Linked DNA regions of Homo sapiens. The protein of the gene in region 2 interacts with the protein of the main gene of each other region in a biochemical or structural test. Each region holds a gene or a part of one and is shown on either strand. Other genes may lie near its edges. The genes, in order: NSMAF and DCP1B.

What was found.
Region 1: the proteins of DCP1B (region 2) and NSMAF form a complex in vitro, tested with the Homo sapiens proteins (one study listed by BioGRID and IntAct).

The regions. Positions count from the first base shown.
Region 1 is NC_000008.11:58,598,265-58,610,969, forward strand, and holds part of NSMAF (protein FAN), read right to left. Parts: intron 11,470-12,705; coding exon 11,340-11,469; coding exon of another isoform or gene 11,319-11,339; intron 9,577-11,318; coding exon 9,505-9,576; intron 7,772-9,504; coding exon 7,663-7,771; intron 5,147-7,662; coding exon of another isoform or gene 5,123-5,146; coding exon 4,946-5,122; intron 3,874-4,945; coding exon 3,794-3,873; intron 3,272-3,793; coding exon 3,181-3,271; intron 3,085-3,180; coding exon 3,021-3,084; intron 1,758-3,020; coding exon 1,706-1,757; intron 1,607-1,705; coding exon 1,486-1,606; coding exon of another isoform or gene 1,468-1,485; intron 1,233-1,467; exon of another isoform or gene 1,100-1,232; coding exon 968-1,099; intron 1-967. UniProt on the Homo sapiens protein: Couples the p55 TNF-receptor (TNF-R55 / TNFR1) to neutral sphingomyelinase (N-SMASE). Specifically binds to the N-smase activation domain of TNF-R55. May regulate ceramide production by N-SMASE.
Region 2 is NC_000012.12:1,948,961-1,961,665, forward strand, and holds part of DCP1B (mRNA-decapping enzyme 1B), read right to left. Parts: intron 6,601-12,705; coding exon 6,472-6,600; intron 4,329-6,471; coding exon 3,456-4,328; intron 375-3,455; coding exon 126-374; intron 1-125. UniProt on the Homo sapiens protein: May play a role in the degradation of mRNAs, both in normal mRNA turnover and in nonsense-mediated mRNA decay. May remove the 7-methyl guanine cap structure from mRNA molecules, yielding a 5'-phosphorylated mRNA fragment and 7m-GDP.

The DNA.
Region 1 (12,705 bases), on a different chromosome or scaffold from region 2:
TAAAAAAAGAAAACACACATGAGAAACGTGGAAGAAGATAAGCATTGAAACTGAAGAGAAGGTATATTGCTGCTATTTTCTGTTAAATTAAAAAAAAAAACTCTGGCAGCTACTTGGGAGGCTGAGGCAGGAGGATTGCTTGAACCCAGGAGCCAGAGGTTGCAGTGAGCCAAGACTGCACCACTGCACTCCAGCCTGGGTGACAGAGCAAGACTCTGTCTCAAACAAAAAAAAAAAAAAAAAAAAAGAAAAAAAAAAGAAAAGAAAAGGAAAAGAAACTCTGGGTCTTCCATAGGAATTGAGGCCACTGTTCTATCACACTGTAATAGAGTTTTAATTGAAATTATTCAGTGGGATGTAGAGTATATGCTAAAATTAGAAGACTTTATAAAAAGACCTCTTGGGGCCAGGATGAATTTGGTATTATTTGGGCAAAAGTCCTCCCTCCTTGTCAGTTACTCAATATCTAATCCAGGGGCTGGGCGCAGTGGCTCACACCTGTAATCCCAGCACTTTGGGAGGCCGAGGTGGGCAGATCACCTGAGGTCAGGAGTTTGAGACCAACCTGGCCAACATGGTGAAACCGTCACGACCAAAAAAAATACAAAAAAATTAGCTGGGCATGATGGCAGGTGCCTGTAATCCCAGCTACTCGGGAGGCTGAGGCAGTAGAATCACTCGAACCAGGGAGTCGGAGGTTGCAGTAAGCCAAGATTGTGTCACTGCACTCCAGCCTGGTGACAGAGCAAGACTCCATCTCAAAAAGAAAACCAAAAAAATATCTGATCCAGGGTCATGCAGCCAGTGGACGCTGGAGTCTGACAGAACATGCTTCCACTGAAGAAATAAGACTAATTGCTTTGGCCTCATTTTTTTGTTGGTATTGTTTGCTTTCATTTTCCAATGAAAATGAATAATGCTAAATATTCACCCAATGCTAAATAAAATTTCAATGAATATTACATACCATTATGGGCCCCAACTGCATCACTCCCTTTTTGTTTGTAGCCAAATATTAGATCAATCCACTCGTGAAGGTGTTCAGACACATAATTGCTTTCCAATGCATCTTTGCTCTTCTGGAGAAAGTCCTCGGGACCTATTAGATTAGACTCAATCGAAAAATCATGGAGTCTTCATTTTTTTCCTCCCATTTCTCTTGTCTATCTATATGTATATAAAGCTTCTAGGACAGGCAAGAGGTCCATATTTCTTAATGCAGTTTTCTTTTTCTATCATATGAAATGTAAGTTTTTTGGGGAAAAAAGTGGCAAGAATCATTTTCACATTAAGGTCTCTCAAATATATATTAATGTTTTTACATCACAGACTCATAGAATACTTCTGATATGGAATAGGGCTCATATATCCTTATTTAGAGAATTATATTGTGATTTTTAAAAATCTAAGCAATAAAATAATTACTGAAATTGCACTACTTGGTAAAGCATGTCTATAATACAACACCTCCAAGGGGGGACTCACTGGAAGCCCAAGGGGGAAGCTCCACGTCGTCAACCATCTGTCCTCCTTGTCTCTTTCCCAAATCCAACTTCAGGCTATTGACTAGAAAGCTCACATCATCACCATAGAATTCTGGAATTAACTGAAAGTTTCGGGGAAAAATAAAAAAGAACAACAAACATGTTTTAAAGCAGTTAGAAACCCCAAGTCCAGTTACTCATCAGCTTTATTAACTGCTTACCTCTTTAAAATCCGTTGCACCATCCAGACAGTTTTTCCAAGTTTCTGCAATACTACATATGAAAAAAAAATTCACCTATTTTCAGCTAAGGAAATAGCAATAGCAGCATTTCCTATGCACTTGGGGGCTGTTCTACACTTTACCTGTATTAACTTCTGTTTGTCATTTCCACATAGTTCTAACCATCTCTCTGAGTGTCCCACTTTAACAAAAGGGAACACTGGGGCCCAGAGAGTTTATGTAACTTCTCCAGGGTCACATGGCGGGAGTGGGCATAGAGTCCGAGTCCACACCATTAGCTACCATATACACATTGCCTCATCCAAGGGCCAAATGGAGCAGGGTGCCTCCACACTGAAAGATTAGCACCACTGGTAGGGCGCGGTGGCTCACACCTGTAATCTCAGTACTTTGGGAGGCCAAGGCGGGTGGATCACGAAGTCAGGAGATCAAGACCATCCTGGCCAACATGGTGAAACCTCATCTCTACTAAAAATACAAAAATTAGCTGGGCGTGGTGGCATGCGCCTGTAGTCCCAGCTACTCAGGAGACTGAAGCAGGAGAATCGCTTGAACCCGAGGCGGAGGTTGCAGTGAGCTGAGATTCTGCTCACTGTACTCCAGCCTGGGCGACAGAGCAAGACTCTGTCTCAAAAAAAAAAAAAAAAAAAAAAAAAGATTAGCACCACTATCTGAATGGCTCATTGCAAAAGGAATTATTATTAGATATGTGTAGAGTTCAAAAAAAATGAAAAGGACATACCAAAAAATTTACAACAATTATTATCTCAGTGTGGTGGGATACCAAGTAAACTTATTTCCTTTTTTATAGTTGCTGATTTTTTTGGCAAGAAAATATTACTTTTATAATTTAAAAAGTAAAGCCATCTAAATACACACAGGGAGCTGTATTCAATTCACAGCAAAATTATCAAGAATAATAAAGTGTGGGAAACAATCTAAATGCCCAACAATGGAGAAAAGAAGTTGACATAAAATATGGCATATGTTAGAATGTGATACAATAATTTTAAAAAAGAATCATTGTTTTGAAGAATATCTAATAATATGGGAAAAACTTTAAGATTTAATATTAGGCTACAAAAGGTAGGACAAAAAGCTGTACATAAAATATGTTCTCACATTTACACACACATATACATGTCTAGAAAAAGCCTGAGAGGAATAGATAGAACAATTAGTGATTTTTTACATTTCTTTACTTTTTTATTATATCCAGTGCTTTGAAACAAGTATGTTGTATATATACAATCAGAAAGTGTTAAAAATGATAAGCAAGGCATTTGTATCAAACCTGTTGAACATTCTATCTGCATTATCAAATCTTCCATTCTGCAGGCACAGCATATACTCTGGTGCTAGAGGGGAAAAAGTCAGAGGTAAGTCAGGTCACAGAATCATTGAAGAATACAGTGAAATAAAATTTAATTGGGGGTAATGATAAAGAATCTTACCAATCCTAACAAGATAAAAAAGTACATAACCCGGGGAAGAGTAGTGACTCCCATACATGAACTTTGGTTCAGGCATTTCCTGGTAGCGTGTCTAGAATACAGAAAAAAAAAAAAAATAGAGCTAAGTGTTGGCTATGAAATAATAACTGACAAGTAGAAAAAGCCTAAAAGAAATCATAACATAGATATACCATATTCCTTAATTTCTCTGTTAGATAAGAAAAGGAGAAGATAAGAGGGAAAGAAAATCTGTGGCTAAACAGCATTCCTGAGACAAGTATTTTGGTTTCCCTGGCTTAATGGTAACAAAATGTTGGCACTAGATTAAATAGAACTGATTTTATGTGTCTCTTATGCGATTTACCACAGAATGCCTTCATGAAAATAATTCAGTGAACCTGTAAACAGGTTGCCCTCCTCCTTCCTAAACTGCAGACAAGAAATGCAAATGGTGAGCAGCTAATTCACGGTCAGGAGAAAAGTAAGAAAAAACTCTACGTAGAGTCACTGGTATAATTCCCCTAAGCCTTGGAGAAACGAATTTCCTTCCATAAAAACACAGGCCATGGCTTCTCGTGTTGCTTAGAAACCAAGAATCTCTAAGTCCACATACCAGTAGTCTCTCCAGCCGTTCCTTATTTAGGGCCCCTACTGGCTTACTGAGATCCCGGAAGGTTCCTGGATTTGACAAATCTATAAACATAAATCAATAAATAACTTCAGCTTATACTTAGTACCATTAACCTCCTGAATTAATTCAAATATACACATTTACTTCCACAAAAGTTTTTTTAAAAATTGAGAGCAATCCATGAGAGTTATTTTTGTTAGTTATTTATGTAGATGTAAAGAAAAGGTTAGCAATTTTGAGTTTTAAGTTAGACACAACCACTTAAGAGCAATATCTCTAATTTGACAATGCCCTGAACATTAATTTTTTTAAAAAAGTTTCTGATTAAGGAACATATATATATTCCAAGTAAAACAACAACAACAACAAAATTTTAAAAGCCATTATTCTTCTACCAAGATTTACTTTCTACATTCGAATTCTAGTGAATATTATTATTCTTCAATATTAGCCTATTTGAGAACTAGTGAGCTAAATATTTTCAGAGAAATACTTTATCATATTTCTAGAAAATCTATTATCTCTTTCAAGGACAAAGGTTCAAGATAATGTGTCAAGAGGAACTAACTGTTCACAATATATAATTTTTAAATATTACAAAATAAAGTTACAATACAATTACATTTTTCTTAAAATAATCTGTGGTAGCAAGAGAAGAGTAGATATACCCCAAAGGTAAAGTGGTTATCTCTGTAATATAATTATGGATGATTTTAATTTTCTTCTTTGATTATTTCAGGACTTTCCAAGTGTTCTATAACAAATAATCACAGTTTTTAATGTGATTTTTAAAAATAATATAAGGTGAGTGAAATTTTCAAAGTGAGAAGCAAATATTTCAAAACGTGGTACTTATAGGTAATAATGATAACCCTGGGTTAAAATCATGCCCATTTTTTCTGTGTGTGTCCTTCAAGAAGTATGGTGGAAAAAACATACATGAAACACTTACGTAACACTTATATAGTATCCTGGAATGGAAATTGGCAGTCCTTAGCAATACAACTGAAATGAGTTGTAATTTGTTCACATGTCACATCACAATTATAAAATAGAATTTATTCTGTCCTTTAAAAACAATACAGATGACTACTCCCCACTCAACTTGGTCAGAATTCCACGTGTGGCAGTTACCTAGTTCTGAGCTGGAATAATCATGTATTATCCATGGAAACACAGGGTACTGGGAGAGGTCGTTGCAGCTGCGGTCGGCCAGGTTGTTGAGGTGAAGGAGGTACTGATAGTTGGAAAGGTGTCCACGCTGCCACTGCAGCATGTAGCTCTCAGCAGTGTGCTCCGCCACATGGTGCTCTGGGGGAAGAGGACCCACGAGGTCTGCCACTTAACTTCGCAAACTTAGTATGCAAAAGCTAGGGGCTTAACGTGTAGACCATCCCTGTGCATTCTTGAAAAATGCATTGTAAGAAAAAGAAAAGTAGGCTGCTGACTTGTTTTCATAAAGTATTTGTTCAGCTATGTATAAACAGTTCCAAGATCAAGGAGGGGAAATTATTAAATACACTGAGCTATTACACTACCCTCCACAATATGACATAACCTAAACAAATACAAAAGTGTAGCGCAAATATATAAATATTACATGTTAATAGGTAATATTTATACAGTAACAAAGAATCCCTCCAAATGTGCTGTCTCCATGCATTTAAAAACCCATGGCCATCTGGGAAAGCTTATTTCTTTTATTATTTATGAAATTAAAGCAATCTTTTAGTTTTCTTTTAGGCTTGGAAGAGATGTACTACTGCTAATTTGTCAATGACTACATATTATTTATGCATGTGAAGACTAAGGAAAAGAAAAGAAATTGTTAAAGAAGAAAACAGGCGTTTGGCAGGAGGACCAATTCTCAAACTAAAAGAACCAGACCTGCCCCCTGAAATACCTCAGGAAAAATGAGATCTTAGATAAATGCAGCAATGAGAACTTCCCTTTCAGAGTGTAAAATGAATTAACTGTCCTACAAGTGGATTTTCCATTTTGTTCAGAAAATTCTGCTTTCAACCTTTCCTGATGCATTAAGCATCTTAACTCTTAATATTTATTCTCATCTACTTTTACCAAGTTTCTTCTTTAATCAGCTACTAGGAAAGGGCTTCAAAAATCAAAACACACTTCCCCCTCGTTTTCTACTTTTGAAACCCCTCAGAAAAAGTATGAACAATCTTAGGAATAAACTCAGTGAGAACTGACAGTTTCTTAGAAAATGGATATTTTAGATCATGGCAAAGTTTTTGGCTTGAGATTTTAGGACTCACCATGAAAGTTGATCTTTTTATTGTAATCTTGTTATAGTTAAAAAAAATAAAATTTAAAAACCTAGATCATGAGACAGGAAATTAAAGTAAACTTGTAACAAAGCTATACTTATACATAAAGTTACCTTCAATAGCTTAATGTATGAATAAAATACTAGCTATATATAACTATATATAAACTATATATAACTACATAGATATATATAATATATATATATAAACCTACTTTAAAATAAAATATGTTCCCTACTGAAAGCCAAGTATTCCTCCTTGAAGTAAAATTTCATTTCTAAGGGAAGATGTACTTTACTACAAATTTCACAAATAGTTTTGTGGTACACTAAAATAACAAACACATTAAGATGATATTAATAAAATCCCAATATCCTTTTTTGTTTGTTTGTTTTTTTGAGACAGGGTCTCACTCTGTCACCCAGGCTGAATTGCAGTGGTGTGATCACTGCCCACTGCAGCCTTGACCTCCCAGGCTCAAGCGATCCTCCCACTTCAGCCTCTCGAGTAGCTGGGACTACAGGCACACGCCACCAGTCCCAGCTAATTTTTAATTGTTTTTGTAGAGATGAGGTCAAGCCATGTTGCCCAGGCTGGTCTCGAACTCCTGGGCTCAAGAGATTCTCCCTCCTCGGCCTCCGAAAGTGCTGGGATTACAGTCATGAGCCACCATGCCTAGCCCCAAAATCCATTTTTAAAGATAATTCCTTTCCAGTTATCTAGCAACTTTGTAAACTAGAATAATTTAATTTAGCCTTGCAATGTAATAAAAAAACTTTGGGCTTGAACATCATAATATAAGTATTTTCTCTGGCAAAGGTGGGAAAATTCACATTTTCCATGGAAAACTGAGGAAATATCATTAATTAAAAGCAAATTCCACTCCAAAGTCAGTATATTGAGCATAGAAGGTTCACATGTTCCTTTTGCAGTCTTTCAGCTTTGTGGTTCTGACCACAATCAATGATCACAAACATATGAATAACTCACTGCCTCGCAGTACAAAACTGAGTCTTGGTTCTCATAAACTAATATAAGACCTGACTGAACATAAAAATATTTGAGTGGATTCTTCAAAATCCATTCAATTTGGAGGACGTTAAAATATAAGAGCATTTAAATATATTTATCTAGAGTTTTTAAAACATACATTCAGAATGAACTATTATCAAAGTGAATTTATATTTCCCAGAATTTTAAAAATATTATTTTGGCAATTATAGTTACTGATGAGAAGAAATTAGACCCACAAAGAGGCGATTCTACAAATAGCATTTTTCTTCTCTTATTTCCTATCCCAGATCCTTAGGAGTTGAACTACCTTCATATGAAAAGAAACCCTGTCTCTACTAAAAATACAAAAAAAATTAGCCTGGCGTGGTAGCGGGCACCTGTAGTCCCAGCTACTCGGGAGGCTGAGGCACAAGAATCACTTGAACCCAGGAGGCGGAGGTTGCAGTGAGCCGAGATCACGCCACTGCACTCCAGCCTGGGTGACAGAGCGAGACTCAGCCTCCAAAAAAAAAAAAAAAAGAAAGAAACAATGAAGGGTGAGCGCCAAACCTAGGTATGTGGCAATGTAAAAATAGAGATCATCTCTATCTTGAGGTTCATAGAACTTTAGGTAGATGTCGGAACACAGATCATCTTCTGTGCAAAATACTTCCAAGCCCTATAAATTCAAAAAGAAAATAATAAAATAAATAGCATTGTATTCATCTTGCAATCCCAATATAAGTATATAATTACAAAAACATTCAGTTAAACATTTGTGTTTATTTTTATAACTTATATTCCTATTTTCAATCTATAAATTTAACTCAGTGATATATATACACATATACGTTTGCGTATATATATATATGTTGTATTTATAAATGTTTTGAGAACAAGATAGTATCTCAGCTAAACTTTGTAAATCACCTTGAGTGTTGAATATTTTCATTAATAATAGCTTTTGTGAACTTGTTATTTTGAAATTCAAAAATAGCTGATCCATGTCTTCACATCTCTTCTTCAAACATAAATGTCTAGCTTTCTTTCATAAGTTAAATAACATATATATATTTTGAGACCAGGTCCTGCTCTGTTGCCCAGGCTAGAGTGCAATGGTGTGATCACCGCTCACTGCAGCCTCAAACTCCCAGGCTCAATTGATCCTCCCACCTCAGCCTCTCGAGTAGCTAAGGCTACAGGCGCACCATGCCCAGCTAATAAATAAAAATTATGCACACCTAACAAATTGATAATTGAATAACCCATTCAATTAATACATTATTATTATCTTATAAAAACCTATGAGCTTTGTGACCATAGTGTTAGTAAGGCTGAGCTAGCAAAGGAACAGACAAAGCCAGGATGAAAGCCCAGAGCTACCCTTGGTTCAAATACAGGCTTTCACCATGTACTAGCTGGGAGCTTAGGAAGTTAACCCCCGGAGTCTCAATTTCTTCACCTGTAAAATACAATACTATCTACTTCACAAGGCTTATAATGGCGAATAAATGAAACATTATATATAAATTGCCTGTTACATAGAAAGCACTTAATCAATGTTAATTTCTTCTCTTTTTCTGACTGCAGCTCTATACCCAAAAGAGGAGATTTTTAATAGTATCTGTTTCCCTGATCTGCTATTAGTGCTGGAAATGGAGGAATGGCCTTTTAAGTAAAATAGGAAGCAAAACAGTAGAATTTCACAAATTAAAAGCACAAAAATAAGAATTAAAATTCCACAATGCTTTTGTAATGTCACCAAGTTACTGGTTAATCTTCAAAGGAGAAAAAATGAATTTCTATTGGTGTCGAATTAAAACACTTGGAATCATACCTTCTGTAGGGATTGGTTACTAAAGTAAGACATGTGTCGGAAATAGGACCTAAGTATAGAAATACACTTATTCAGGGAATGGTGGAAGGAACTGCCTATATGATTTTACATGGTTATTTTGTCATTCAGCCCAAAGGTTGAATTAATGTAAGTTAACTGTGAATATACTAGTTCCACTAAAGAAGTAATTTTGTAACATCTTCCAGATTTTGCTTTGAGACCTAGCTGCTATGAATGGTGGAGGCAAGTACAGCACAGGGTTGGTTTTACACAGATCATTCTAGCCTGAGCCCAGAAACTGAGAATGCACGAATGAGAAACTCAAGGGCACTCTAGCCCTCTTGCTCTTGGAGCCAAAAATACTTCATAATAGAACCTCTTCTCTACATGAAAGAGTTATTCCTTTATGAATTTCTACCTTCTCCAAAAGAAAGAACAGCAAAATCAGAGTCTATTTTCTTACAGGACAGTGTACTTGTACTTTCAGACATCCCATAAGTGTTTACCGTCAATAAACTGCTGGCTAAACTGAAAGTGTGACAATCATGCCCCAGCACAGCCTCCCAAGGACTCACCAGAGGCATGAGGCCGTGCCTCCTTTTGTAGATGCGGCGGACATCTTGGAGTGTTATCTGGACCACAGGTTTCTTTAAAAGTAGAAAGACAATCTCAAACATTATTGTTCTGACACAATTAGAAGTTGTTCTATAGTATCAGAAAGGGGAAAAAAAAATCACCAAATCTTGCTTTCCTAATAAACCATTGGAAAAGGAAATCTTGGAACAAGGTGATATCTGGTTTCCCATTCTGCTCTGCCATCTTTCACTAGCTTTATGACCTTGGGCAAGTCTTCCTCCCCGCCATGTGGCACCCTGCAAATGATAATGCAATCATCTATCTTTCAGGGATATTTCAGGTTAGTTTGGGGTGGGGTGATATCTTTCAGGTTAGATTGTGGGGTGATAAGAAATATAAAGAACTGGCATAAATAACCTCTCAGGAATCTTGCTATCTTTTTTTAGACAAATAGTTTGCTTAGTACTGACACACATCTTTTTTAAAGAATCCTGTCTTTTATCTCATTAAAAATTACAGTGTATTAAGGCTCACAGATTACTAAAGTATAAAGCAAGGCCTCTGAATTTTTTCTTTGTTAATGAAGAAGAAAATTGTCTTGCTTTTCTATAATTTTAAAACACTAGTAAGAGAGAAAGGAGGTTTAAAAAGGCAGAGATTGGCTAATGGCTATGCTTCCGTGGTCCTCCTCCCAAGTAGGAGGGAAGATGGGTGTGCAGAGGTCAGTCTGTCCAACAGTGGAAACTGCCCCGGAGTCCCAGAGTCAGGTCTTGGAAATGACTGGTCAAGGATCCTGGCCAGTATTGGGAAGGGGTAAAGGCCCATACCATGGATTGTGAAGCTAGGGTACACAGACATTTTTTCTCAAAATTTCTGACCCAAGCAATAGTAGCAGCCAAGCCAATTTTTTACACTCCCTGAGAATGCTGTGCTAGCAGCATGCAGTGTCTACTGGAGAACTAGGAAAGTGAGCCCCACCACCTAGTGGACACAATCACTATAGCATAATCTTTCACTCAGGAGAGTTTGAGATGTTTTAGTGCCCTGTAATGACCAGCCTGGAGAATTTCCAAGGTGGAACTTTCTCTGGCAGAATTCTTGGGCCCTGCCAAATGGCCCCACAGCACTACCAGGGTGTGTTAGGATTTCTGTTCTTTTAATGGATCATGCTAAAAAGTGGCCAGATCTAGATAAGCAACAAATCTTTACAAGTTTCAGCATGGATATCTAAGTTTATATTTATTTTCTGGCCTTGTAAGTCTGTGTCATTGTGAAAGAGAAGATTGTTTCCAACATCCTAGCAGGAGCCCATAACTGCCAGACGGCAGGATCTCCACACACACCTCTGCACTAGCTGGGAGGACCTGCTCATAGTGCTCCTTCAGGAAAAATTCAGATCTACTGAGGTTGTTCATCATTAAGAAGAAGCAAGAAATACCAACATCTGTGTATATATAAGCAAATATATTTCAAAATCTATTTCTTATTAATCATAGTATATTTCACTGGTCTCTAGGAAATGCCTCCTAGAAGAAAGGTCTAAATCTCTAGCGACCCTTTACTAAAATAGGGAGGAGCAGGGTTTCTTTTCACCACACTGAGAGCAAGTGCCCCTGACATGACTGAAAACAGATCAGAAGAACTCAAACTTCAGAGACTACACATCACGATTACACACGGTGTTTGTAAAATACACAGATGCTGCCTGTGAAGGGGGTGGGCAGGGACATGACTTGATCCTCATCAAAAAGTGAGGTCCCTGGCATTGTGAGGCCATGGTCTGGAAACAGCTTAAACATGGGCAGCTCCCCACCTGACCCTGTGGTCTACACACCGGGTAGCCGTTGAGGGGCTGAAAATACAGGTTTGTGTCCGTGATGCACACGTGTCCAGGATTAGTCACCAGAGGCGTCACCATTTCTGCTTTGCATTCCATGTGCAGCTTTTCAGAAATGTTTTGGAACCTGAAAATAGGTTTTTCAGCAAAAGTAAGAAAAATCAGAAATTGATCTACTTTCTAGGTTTATCTAAGGGAGCTACAGTGTGACTTTCTATGACATTTGTCTAAACACTACATTTAATATAAGAAAAATGGTAATATAAATTGATTGCTTAGATAAAACTGACTCTTTAGAAATGGCATGATAAAAACTCATTTTTCAAAGAAATAGGTGAGATTATCTACCACAGAAGCCATGACAGACAAGTAAATAATACCAAATAACCCTTAGCTAAACTCATTCCCCCCAAAATAAATAGGCCTTGAAACTATTCTTACATTTAAATTATTTCCTATTTTTCTGTCATTATTTTTATCATCCTATAAACCATTTTGACACAAGTGGCATTTATTTCACACTACACTTTATAAGGCTCTGACTACATAATTATAATTACTTGAATTATAATACATTTGAGTAACTGTATATTCCTTTGTATATTTTTGAGTATATCCCTCTGTGAATTTACTGCAGAAAACCTCTGAAAAATGATCTCTTCACTACTCACTCCTAAAATATTTAATCAACAAAGTCCCTTCTCATTCTGCTTTAACTGATTTAAGAAAAAATAAGGGAAAACAACCAAATCATCAACATTTTAAGGCAATTACTGAAATAACTGGGTTAAAAATAAATCTCTTTATAAGTGACAGGACAAAAAGATACAGAGGAAGATCTCCACCTCAAGTTAGGATGGGAAAGCTGTAAGAGACTGTTGAAGCTTTCACCCTAACAACCAAAATGAGCTGGATATACTGAACAATCTTCATAGCTTTTTAAAACCGACTGGAATGTTGAGCATGTAAAGCAACCTAAATGAACATGATTGCAAAAAGGAAAGAAGAGATCAACAGGTGAGTGGCAGGAGGAGGAGCAACCTATGATAGAAGTGAGTAAGGGCTGCAGAATGAAGAGAGATCTTCAGGGAAATGGAAAGCCAGAGTTGAGACTGGAGAGCAAAGAAAGCTCCCCAGAGATCCAAAAATGCTGTCGACTGAGGTGCAAAACAAGGGAAATCTCCCACAGTTCAGAAACCCGATGGCTCAGTTATAAAGCACAAAGATATCTCTAGAATCCTTCAAGTGCTGAGATCCCAAGTCCTGTGGAAGAGAAAGTCTTTATCACTCCCTCAATAGAGTTGTAGGCAGTGTTGGCTTAAATTTAACCACAGGTGCAACAAAGTCTTAATGCAGCTCAGTG
Region 2 (12,705 bases):
TTGTTACACACACCTGTTATTCTCACGGAAGCTAAGCAGGCCTTGGCTGAGTCTTTATCTCATAGTTGCAGCCAGGAGGCCAACAGGCGTGGTCAGGTGCGAAGGGAGATGACGTGCTTGCTTACCTGAATGAGGTACAGCAGTGCCTCCTGGAGCTGGAGCTTGGTGAGTGGGCTGCTGGTGATCACGGAGGGCTCCGGGCTCTGTATGGGCAGGAGGAGGCTGGTGGCAGCAGCAGGTGGCTCCTGGCCTCCCACAGGCAAGAGGCCGCTCTCCCTTTCCTTTGGCGGGACGGAGGTGGGTTGTGCGAACACCATGGGGGACATAAGCAGAGACGGAGCTGCTGTAGCAGGGATGCGCTGAGGTGAGATGACCTGCTCACAGCAAATACACACAGAGAGCGGGGTTCAGGAGCAGCTCACGGCATGATAGCTTGCAGCGGCAGATACGGGTGGTCTAAGCATTCCCTGTCCACAGCTTTCCTAGCTGAGAAAAGTTTATGGGAAACTGATTCTTGCTCCACTGCTCCATGCACCTTCCTTCAGCATCACTGAGCAGCTCTGGTATCGTCTGCTGTGGGGACTATTCTTTCCACTGCATATGCAGCTTGGCCTCTGGGTGACAGCTTATTTTTCAGGCTACCAGTATTTGGCAAGTGCATTTAGGACTACTGACCTTTTCCTTAGACCTGGTTGTCCATGACCCTGACCTAAAGGTCTCACAACCTATGTGAGCTGCCACCCTTGTTAGGGGCCTCCCCATTTCCCCTCCTGACCCCGGAGCACAGGAGGCGCTGTGAGAGCAACTCCCCGCCCCTCCTGCGGCCTCACTCACTTCTCGTGGGGAGGGAGAGTGATGTGTGGGTCCACCCCTTCTGGGTCCTTCCCTGACAGGATCTGCCTGCCTGCAGAGAGCCCTCATCTTCAGCTTCCGCAGCTGATGTGTTTGGGCTGACCCGGGCGGCCTGTTGCTCAGCCCTGCCAGAGCCTGTCTGCTGAGTCTAACTCCCTTGGCAAACAGACCTGAAACCAAGTTTTCTAACAGCCCTTTCAGTTATGCAAGTGACATTTTGATCCTTATCTGACTGACTCCTACAGCTATCATTTGCTTCTAACTCAGGGAAGAAAAAGAATGTTATTTATCAGCCTCCGAACTCCCCGAAAGAACTCCTAAGAGGGAGGCAAGGAGGCCAGCAAGCTAGAAGTTGCTGTAATTTTATAATCAATCCCTTAGCGTCTCTTTGAGCAAAAGTTGGCCTAGAGGAAGGCAGGCTGTTTCTTTTAACTTGTCCCTACATGACATTTCGAGGAGCGGTGCTGAGCAGTGATGCTCCCGGAGGTGGAGTCAAGCATTCTGAGCACAGCGTGGGCTGCTGAAATGCTTGCCTTTCTCACTCGGCTCTTGATATTTGTGAGTACTGAAAAGTCAAGGGAGTTGTACATCAGAAATTTAAGTCAGACTATATTCATCGCATGCTTCTAATTCTAAATCATCAAAGAGGAAAAAAGCAGACATTTTTAAAAAAGGGACAATAACACTGAAATGAGGGGGAGTGGGAGTTATAAATATTGTTTCTATAGCAGTCGGTACTCAGATTTGGGATGTTAATAAATAATAAATGAGAACACTTTGACTCAGGGGCTCACAAAGACTTTTGGCACATGCCTAAGGTCTTTGTTTTCAAAAAACTGAATTTTTTGTTTTGAGACAAGGTCTCACTCTACTGCCCAGGCTGGAGTGCAGTGGTGCAAACATGGCTGACTGCAGCCTCAACTTCTTGGGCTCAAGCAATCTTCCCACTTCAGCCTCCCAAGTAGCTGGGACCACAGTGGCATGCCACCATACCCGGCTAATTAAAAACAAAAAATTCTTGTAGAGACAGGGTCTATGTTGCCCAGGCTGGTCTGAAACTCCTAGGTTCAAGCGATTCTCCTATCTTAACCTCCAAAGTGCTGGGATTACAGGCACGAGTCACCATGCCCAGCCAAAAGTTCAAGATTTTTGAGAAACTGTTATAAGTTACATAACAGGCCAGGTGCAGTGGCTCACGACTGTAATCCCAGCACTCTGAGAGCCCGAGGTGGGTGGATCACCTGAGGTCAGAAGTTCGAGACCAGCCAGGCCAACATCGTGACACCTCGTCTCTACTAAAAAAATACAAAAAATTAGCCAGGTGTGGTGGCAGGTGCCTGTAATCCCTGCTACTCAGGAGGCTGAGGCAGCAGAATCGCCTGAACCCGGGAGGTGGAGGTTGCAGTGAGCCGAGATCGCACCATTGTACTCCAGCCTGGGCGACAAGAGTGAAACTCTGTCTCAAAAAACAAAAAAAGGTACATAACAAAACATGACAAAGGGCCAGTGATGATATATGTGATACACAGGGAGAACTTTCCAATTTTTAAACCCAATGTACTTTCAATGAATGTGTTCCAATCCAAAGGGAAAACAATTCAATGTCAGATCTCCAGATGTTACCCACAGGCAGATGATCAATAGCTTGTGGTTTCCTCACTGTCCCAAGTCAGTGATGGACATGGAAAAGCATCTTCTCTAAAGGAGAGAATCTTTCTAAAAACTGTCATATTTTCCCTCTCTGGCAGTTTGTGTGGGGGGTGGAGGTGGGTGGCATGCATACCTCTCCTGATCTACAGTAGGCTATACTGACGATACAGAGAAAGATAAAAACTGGCTGCACCTTTCAGGAGGAAATAGGCTGTTTTTTGTTTATTTCAAGAACCTACAGCATGGGCTGTGGGTAAGGAGTCTGTTTTCTTCATCATTATGTACCCACATGTAGACAATGCCTGACATGTAGTAAGTGCTCAAAAATATTTACTAAATAAGTGAATAATTTACTGTGGACTGAAAAACAAGAGGAGGTCAGTTGCTTGGCATTCCAGATTGATTTCAAGGCAGACCATACTAAGTTCCTACAGTCAAAAATTACGGTTTTCTCCCATGTCTGTGTTGGTCTTCAGACCTCCTAATATAACGAAGATTTAACTCTACAAGTAATGCTCTCAAAAAGGTTGGGGGAAGTTCTCAGATTGTTAACCAAAGTGAAGATTCTCCTTCCAGGTAGAAAGTTCAGGCAATCAAGATGCACGGAGGTGCACCCTGCTCCAAACAGAAATGTACGTGACACATTGGTCCCTAGAGCATGGAAGTGGACTCTACATTTCACTGCATTATAGTAATACCTTTTTCTTTGTCTGTCTTTTTTTTTCTTAACAGACAGGGTCTCGCTCTGTCACCCAGGCTGGAGTGCAGTGGCACGATCATGGTTCACTGTAACCTCCGCCTCTTGAGCTCAAGGGATCCTCCCACCTCAGCCTCCTCAGTAGCTGGTGCTATAGGCGTGTGACACCAAGCCTGGCTACTTTTTTTTTTTTTTTAGGGACAGGATCTTGCTATGCTGCCCAGGCTGTTTTATTTTGCCCCTGGTACATATTTACCTGGAAAAGAGGAGTCTGCTGTTCTGTGTTGGGTGTCTTGTTGATCCAGGATTCCAAGGGTTTCCCTGTTCCAGAGCTCTGAGCGAGCACAGGAAACTTAGCGGCCAAGGCTGGCCGGTTAGAGGCATGCAGCTGCTGCTCCTGCTGTACAATCTGAAGCTTCTTCAGTAACTCTTGAGGGGAGATCACTCCAGAGCTGCCAGTCTGACTACCAGAGATGGGGAGTGTTTGTCTTGGGAGTGTGGACTGTTCTCTTCCATGAGCCTGATGTCCTACTGTCTGAGGTGGAAGGGAGCCATTGAAATAGGCCTGTGGTGGCTGAGCCAGACCCTTTCCTGGAGCCACAGGGGTGACAGAAGTGGGAGCTCTGCTGCGGTTCAGGGCAGCTGAGCTGGCAGGTGCTGGTGTACTAGGGTCACACTTGTTTGCTGCCCCTGGGGTACTCTGAAGTTTCTCGAACAGGTTCTGAGTTCTGGAAGCATTTTGTACACCACGAGAAGTTCCAATGTTGTGAGGAGACCCTGGCTGGACAGGTCCTGTAAAAAATTCTCCCGCAGAATGGGTACTGCCATTTTCACAAGGCCGGTTTTCAGGCAGCTCTGACAATGGGTGGAGGTCTGCGCTCCTGACCATGAGTTTCTGAATGGCTGGACAGAGCTGCTTCTCAATGGGGGGTGAGTGTCTTCTGGGTTCCTCATAGGACAGGGAGCGTACAACCCCCTGCCTAATTGGAAGCTTCTCTTGCTGCTGCTGCTGCTGCTGCTGCTGCTGGTGGAGAGTCTGCGGAGGCTCCACAGTTTCCTGACATGTAGCTTTGTCCTGCTTCCCAAACAGAGCTGTCAAGGATAAGTGTTGGGGTTCAGGGTCTAAGGTCTGGAAAAAATAAAGATATCTGACATGAGTCTACAAACAATTTGGTTATATGAGGAAGTGCTATGAAACATAACTTATCTGATGACTTATTCTATTTACAAAGGATTGATTAGAGAGAATGAAAAATAATAATAATAAACTTGAAAAATGAGATCCCCTTTTTAATGTCAAAAATTTTCACAGCATGCTCCCCTTGCACCCCCAAAACAGTTATTATATTTTAATATCTGTTGACCGATAAAACAGGTATAAGATCTTCAAGGGCCTGGGGTTTCACAGATTGGGAACCACCTTGGTAGGAAATTATATGCACTAAAAAAATAAACAATCTGTTCAATAGGAAGCCCATCTAAGCCTGCAGAGTAATATGAGAATACAAAGGAATATAAGCATTTCAGAATTTCTAGTAGTTTTTCACAGAATTATGGAAATCAAGGGCTGGAAAGAAACGGAAGACTTTAAATCTAACTTGATCCTTTCAAATATATACTGGTAGGATTTAAAAAGTCCTTGGATACATAAAATCTACCTTGGCCCAGCCAGTTACAAAGCTACTTCCTTCTTGCTCTTTACTTCTGTTGCTTTCTGCATTGTTGCACTGAGAAAACATGAGGCTAGGCACAGTGGCTCATGCCTGTAATTCCTGCACTTTGGGAGGCCAAGGCAGGCAGACTGCTTGAGCTAAGGAGTTCAAGACCAGCCTGGGCAACATGGCAAAACCCCATCTCTACAAAAAATACAGAAATTGCCAGATGTGGCAGCACACGCCTGTAGTCCCAGCTACTTGGGAGGCTGAGGTGGGAGGATTGCTTGAGCCCAGGAGACACAAGTTGCAGTGAGCTGAGATGGTGCCACTGCACTCCAGCCCGGGTAACAGGAATGAAATCTGTCTCAAAAAAAAAAATAAAAGAGGAAAGAAAAAAAACCACAAGCTTCATTTTAAAGTCAACATATTCAGGTCTCGCTATTAAAATATAATAAAAACTTTCCATAAAACAAGCAATAAAAAGAAAGCTAAAAAATTAGAAGACTTCTTTTCTTTAAAAATTCAATATAAGATTTTCATTACTAGTCTTTATGTCTTTTGGCTCCATGTTCATTTTCAAAATTGATATAAACTAATTCCTTTAAGAAAATCTTTTTAATTAGTCATAGTCATGATAAAATGACACAGCAATATTATATTTACAATCATTAATGGGACCTACAGATTGACAATTTTTGTCATTGCTGTACTATTCTGAAGTGTATATATATATATATATACACTAACACAAAAGCTGCTGTAATATTTCTAATTTAGATTGCAAAGACAGTGACAAGTCATCATATCTGAAGAGGAGTTTTATACCATTCCTTTGGACTCTGAGCTCTCGGCGGCAGCTACCCCAGTCTACAGTGCTAGCTCTGCATCTGGCACAGAGGAGGTGCTCAGAAGTGCTCAAATCAACTCTGTGTCCTTGGTGGTTCTCCCAGGTGGCCTTGGGAAGCCACCCACCCCAGAAGAATATGGACCCAATGGGTAATGTTTCTGTCATCTCTGACAATGTTATTAGTTTTCTAGGGTGCTTGTTTGTTTGTTTTTGTTTTCTGAGACATGGTCTTGCTTTCTTGCCCAGGCTGGAGTGCAGTGGCGCATTCCATAGCTCACCGTAACCTCAAACTCCTAAGCTCAAGGGATCCTCCCGCCTCAGCCTCCAGAGCAGCTAGCACTACAGGTGCACGCCATCATGCCTGGCTAATTTTCCTGTAGAGATGGAGTCTCACTGTGTTGCCCAGGCTGCTCTCAAACTTCTGGCCTCAAATGATCCTCTCGCCTCAGCCTCTCAAAGTGCTGGGATTACAGGCTTGAGCCACTGTGCTGGCTTGTTGTTTTTTAAAAAATACATTATCTTTTAAGGAGTTCAAGTTCACAAGAGATTAGCACAGAATGTGGTATATGCCAAAAGTAAAAACTTTAACCCTCTTCTAGGAAGAGTAAGTTATTAATAATGAAAAAATCTGTATTCTGAAATCCCGCTTTCTTGGGTTTACCTGAAAGCATTCTTCAACAACACCAGGCCCTCCCCTGACTATATTCTGGGTCAAAGTTCTTTAAGAATTCTAGAGACACACTGAATATGACAAGCAGAGAACTCCGTACCTGGTTGGGCTGAGGTATACGCTGTTGCTGGTTTTCACTGGGTTTCACTGGAATTGGTTTGATGAGATTTGGATTGTCATAGATGGCAGAGGAACTGGTTATCTTTTTTGGCTCAGAACAGGTTTTACACTGAAATAGAAAAGAAAATCCCCTCATTTTTGGCTTAGAAAAGCTTTAGTCTTTTTAAAAGACTACCTTTTTACTTCTTATCTAATTGGTAGACGGCTGTGTTTTTGATAGATTTTCATGCACAAAGGAAAATCCCTTAAATTTCTCTAAGAGCTATGTTTGAGTATAAATCAAGTTAAAATTTAATTTTTCTTAGTTGGACAATTCAGTGCTCTAAATATTACTAACAACACCAGCCTCCAGGACCAGGGGTTCTTAAGACACCTGTATAATTGAAAGGTTCTGTGCTTAATATATTGACTATACGTTTAAATATATATAGTCTAATGTCTTTCAATGATAAACAAATATAGAAACCATTCCTTAAATAACATGTCTGGACAATTTAAGCAGTTGACTTAAAATTGGAGAGTAGTTGAGTACATTTCATCAAAGTAACTAAATCTTTTTTGGTCTACAAACCAAAAAGCTGACTCAAACCACTGATTTAAAAATTACTAACATCATCTTTATTTAATAAATGACTTCTTGCATAAACAGAGTAATTCAAATCTGAGCGTTCTGAGCTACTTACTACAAATTAGAATTTTGTAGAGAAAGAGACAAGAGACAAATCTCATCATTTCCAACACTGACTCATTATTATACATTAATCTAACCAACCATGCAATTGCTAACACAGTAGGATTCATAACAAAAAGAGCATGGCAATGATACTGGTGTCTAGTTTGCTAAAACACTAAATAAAACAATATAAAATGCTGCTTTCTGTACTACAGACTCTCTGAAGCATCATTTGTTTCCACTGTACAGCCAAGGCCTCAGGCCCCAAAATATTCCACACCTGACATGAAATGAAATATAAACACAATCTTGTCCCTCAGGAACCCAGCATTCCCAATGTGTTTTACAGTTATCAATGTGTATTCTCTAATCCAACGATCTGGGGGTGTGGCATCTATTACCACTGTATGCACTGTATGTGAGGTTAACCATACAAAAGATTCTCTTCCTCCAGGCATTCTATCAATAATTTGTATATTTAGCACAAGTATTACGTGGGATGCAAAATCACCTTATAAGTCATAAAGTGTTACTTCCAATTCTTCTTAGGTGAATGAGGGTATGGCGGCATGGACCAACTGGCATGGCTTTCCCAAGTCATGGATAACCAAGACAAGACAAGAATACAGGCTAACATTTAATCCCTTACACAATTTTGGCATGAAAAGCCTTGCTATTTAAAAGAACGTGAATGCTTCCTTTCTTTGAATGACGCTTTCTGTATTTCTTCTTTTTCTATGTTCAGAAACACTGAATTTCCGGCAAAGAAAGGCAGATTTTTCCCAGCTTCCCTATGCCCATATCCATATGGGCTAACAGGATGCTTTGTCTGTTGATATGAATAAGCCTGATAGCTTTTCCTAGTTAAAATGTTATCTCCAGAAGCTGTTTTCTGTGTCACTACAACTGCCTACCTACAAAACCTTGCTTTTATGTAACAATTGCTCCCTCTTATCAGAGTGCTCAGAATTAATCATCCACCTCAGTAGTTTGTAGCTCATTTTCCAGTTGTTTAATTTTGTATGCTTTTCCCGACCTAAATATCTTTAAAATCCTGGGGGGAAAAACAGTTTTTGAAAAAGCATATAATGGATTCTTCACAGAGAACCTGAGGCATTTCTTTAAAACTTCAAAAACTTCCTCTGTTGGATGCTGAGGTTAAAATACAATAAAACCTCAAAAAGTATGTCATATAATCCAGTTTTAATCACACACAAACACATACATACATAAACATATGTATTTATGCCAAGAGAGATGTTTGAAACAAAATACAATAAAAGTATAAAAAGTTTCTATCTTCAGTTTATAGGATTATTGGTGATTTTTCTTTTTATATTCTTTTGAATTCTATCATTCAACAAAAAAATTTCTATAATTTCATAAATAACTCACAGCTATATCCAGAAAAGAGCCAATAATTCTTGTCTTAAACCACAAAACACAAATAGTCCACTTCTGAATACTCCAAGCTTAACTATGCAGCCTGTAGATCATTTCTGGTCCTGCCTCTTGTTCTTACTAAAATTTGGTTATTTTACTGTTCACTTGCATCTCAACTAGAAATTGAATAGGGCGGAGATAAAAAGAGATGAAATGCAAATTAACATCTTTTCTACTTTAAAGCAGATTCACAGAAAGTTATTTCTCAAAAGAGAATGCACAAAATTTCAGCCAAAATAAGTTTTCAAATTATTTTATTAACCTCCTGTAAACTAGACAGACTTCACTTTACCCATATCATATATACTGATAGCTCAACATTTTTCCTACTTCCACTTCTTGGGATGTTCACAAATTTAAGAATTCTAGAGAGACTTAAGCGTAAGGCCTGAGACTATAAACCTCCTGGAAGGAAACAGGGGAAAAGCTCCCCAACGTCGCTCTGGGCAGACTTTTTCTATAAACCTCCTGGAAGGAAACAGGGGAAAAGCTCCCCAACGTCGCTCTGGGCAATGGCTTTTTCTATGAACCTCCTGGAAGGAAACAGGGGAAAAGCTCCCTAACGTCGCTCTGGGCAATGACTTTTTCTATAAACCTCCTGGAAGGAAACAGGGGAAAAGCTCCCTAACGTTGCTCTGGGCAATGACTTTTTCTATAAACCTCCTGGAAGGAAACAGGGGAAAAGCTCCCCAACGTTGCTCTGGGTAATGACTTTTTCTATAAACCTACTGGAAGAAGACAGGGGAAAAGCTCCCTAACGTCGCTCTGGGCAATGGCTTCTTCTATAAACCTCCTGGAAGAAGACAGGGGAAAAGCTCCCTAACGTCGCTCTGGGCAATGGCTTTTTCTATAAACCTCCTGGAAGGAAACAGGGGAAAAGCTCCCTAACGTCGCTCTGGGCAATGGCTTTTTCTATAAACCTCCTGGAAGAAGACAGGGGAAAAGCTCCCTAACGTCGCTCTGCGCAATGGCTTTTTCTATAAACCTCCTGGAAGAAGACAGGGGAAAAGCTCCCTAACGTCGCTCTGGGCAATGACTTTTTCTATAAACCTCCTGGAAGGAGACAGGGGAAAAGCTCCCCAACGTCGCTCTGGGCAATGACTTTTTCCATAAACCTCCCGGAAGGAGACAGGGGAAAAGCTCCCCAACGTCGCTCTGGGCAATGACTTTTTCTATAAACCTCCCGGAAGGAAACAGGGGAAAAGCTCCCCAACGTCGCTCTGGGCAATGGCTTTTTCTATAAACCTCCTGGAAGGAAACAGGGGAAAAGCTCCCCAACGTCGCTTTGGGCAATGACTTTTTCTATAAACCTCCTGGAAGGAAACAGGGGAAAAGCTCCCCAACGTCGCTCTGGGCAATGACTTTTTCTATAAACCTCCTGGAAGGAAACAGGGGAAAAGCTCCCCAACGTCGCTCTGGGCAATGACTTTTTCTATAAACCTCCTGGAAGGAAACAGGGGGAAAGCTCCCCAACGTTGCTCTGGGCAATGACTTTTTCTATAAACCTCCTGGAAGGAAACAGGGGGAAAGCTCCCCAACGTCGCTCTGGGCAATGACTTTTTCTATAAACCTCCTGGAAGGAAACAGGGGAAAAGCTCCCTAACGTTGCTCTGGGCAATGGCTTTTTCGATGTGACCCTAAGGACAGGCAACAAAAGCAAGAGACACACAGGATTACATCCAACCCAAGGCTGTTGCATAGCAAAGGAAACAGCAGAGTGAAGAGATGACCTATGGAGTGGAGGAAGATACCTGCACAACATACATACGATAAGAGATTCATGTCCAAAGTAGATAAGGAACTCAAACAACTCAACAGTAAGAAAAGAAAACAAATGTTCTGATCAAAATATAGACAAAGGGCCTGAGTGGACATTTTTCAAAAGAAGACATACATGTGGCCAATAGGTATGTGAAAAATGCTCGACATCGCTAATCATCAGGGAAATGCAAATTAAAACCACAGTGAAATATCACCTCAAACCTGGTAGAATGTCTACCATCAAAAAGGCAAAACATAAGTGGTGGCAAGGATGTACAGAAAAGGAAATCCTTGTATACTGTTGGTGGGAATATTAGTTAGCATAGCTATTATGGAAAATAGCATGTTGGGCCAGGTGCAGTGGCTCACGCCTGTAATCCCAGCACTTTGTGAGGCTGAGGCGGGCGGATCACGAGGTCAGCAGATCGAGACCATCCTGGCTAACACGGTGAAACCCCGTCTCTACTAAAAATACAAAAAAATTATCCGGGCATGGTGGAGGGCGCCTGTAGTCCCAGCTACTTGGGAGGCTGAGGTAGGAGAATGGCGTGAACCCAGGAGGTAGAGCTTGCCATGAGCCAAGATTGCTCCACTGCACTCCAGCTTGGGTGACAGAGCAAGACTCCGTCTCAAAAAAAAAAAAAAAAATTTATGTTGGCTCCTCAAAAAATTAGAAATAGAACTACCACATGATCGAAGAATCCCATTTCTGGGTATATATCCAGGGAAAATGAAATCAGTATGTTGAAGAGATAGCTGCATTCCTGTGTTCACCACAACATTACAATAGCCAATATATGGAATAAACCTAAGTGTTCATCAATGAATGAATGGATAAAGAAAATGTGGTGTATAAACACAATGGAATACTATTCAGCCTCAAAAAAGAAGGAAATTCTGTCATTTGCAACAACATGGATGAACCTGGAGGACATTACATTAGGTGAAATAAACCAGGCACAGAAAGGCAAGTACTGCATGATTTCACTCCTACATGAAATCCAGAGAAGCTGAACCCACTGAAGCACAGTAGGCTGGTAGTTGCCGGAGGCTGGGGGTAGGAGGATTTTGGAGATGTTGGTCAAAGGATACAAACTTTCAATTAGACAGGAGGAATAAGTTCAGGAGATTTATTGTACATCATGATGACTACAGTTAGTACTAATATATTGTATACTGAAAGTTGCTAAAAGAGTAGATTTTAATTATTTTTGCCACACAAAAATGATAAATATGTGAGGTAATACATGTGTTAATTAGCTTGATTTAGGCACCCTATAATATACATGCATATCAAAATATCATGTTGTATACCATACATAAATATATACAATTTTAATTTTTCATTGAAAATAATTTTAAAAAGAAAACTTCAATAAAAGTAAGTCTAGCACTGAAAACCATCTCAGAAGTCTTTTAGTTTAATACTTATCCAACACAAGCCAAATTCTTTTATCACATCACCAATATGTAACTGTTCAATCTCTTCTTGAACACTTTAAGTAACGGAGACTCACTTCCCAACAAGAACTCTGAAGGAACATTCTGTTTTCCTTCTCTCTCGCTACCTTTCCATTTCACCCCCTTTCTTCTGTCTCAGAACCACTTTACTCAGGGTCTCCACATTTTCTGAAATATCTGTGTGTGAGTGCAGAGACAACACAATGTAAGAAGGCGATGGAATGCTCTTTCCAAACATAAGGCACTGGCAGCTAGCAGGGTGCATGCACACCTAGTTAGGCCGGCCAAAAATAAGGTGATGGAAAAAGAACATCTGAAACAGGCCCTGAAAGCTGGATCATATTTTGATGGGTGAAGAAGGGGTGGGAACAGTATGAGAAAAGTCATGAAAGCACTCTCAGGAAGCAAAATGAGTATTCTGTTTGGCAGGAGTTTCAAATATTTGTAGAGGGTAGTAGGGTTAGAAGAACAAACTGAGGCCGTCTTAGGGAAGGCTTGAAGACTCCAAGGGTTCCTGTACTGGGCAATGACAAACCAAGAAAAACGGAGACTAGGAAAGTAGCGTGATCATGCAGGTGTCCTGGCACACTGTATCACAACATCTGGCTGTTAATGGAAGAAGAAATAATTTCCTCTATTATTTATCTCACAGTTGGAGCAACTGACATTACGCATAAAACAACATGTATTTGATTTTTACAGAAAAGCACCTTCTATACACGAATTAAGTGTCTGCACTTCATGTCAACATTATAACAAATCTGTGAGGGCATAAAGATGAACAGAACATTGTTTTAACTTCAACCAGTTTACAGTGTACTGGGAGAAGTTGACTTAATGTAATAAATGAGGAAGAACAAAATAAGTTTTAAATAG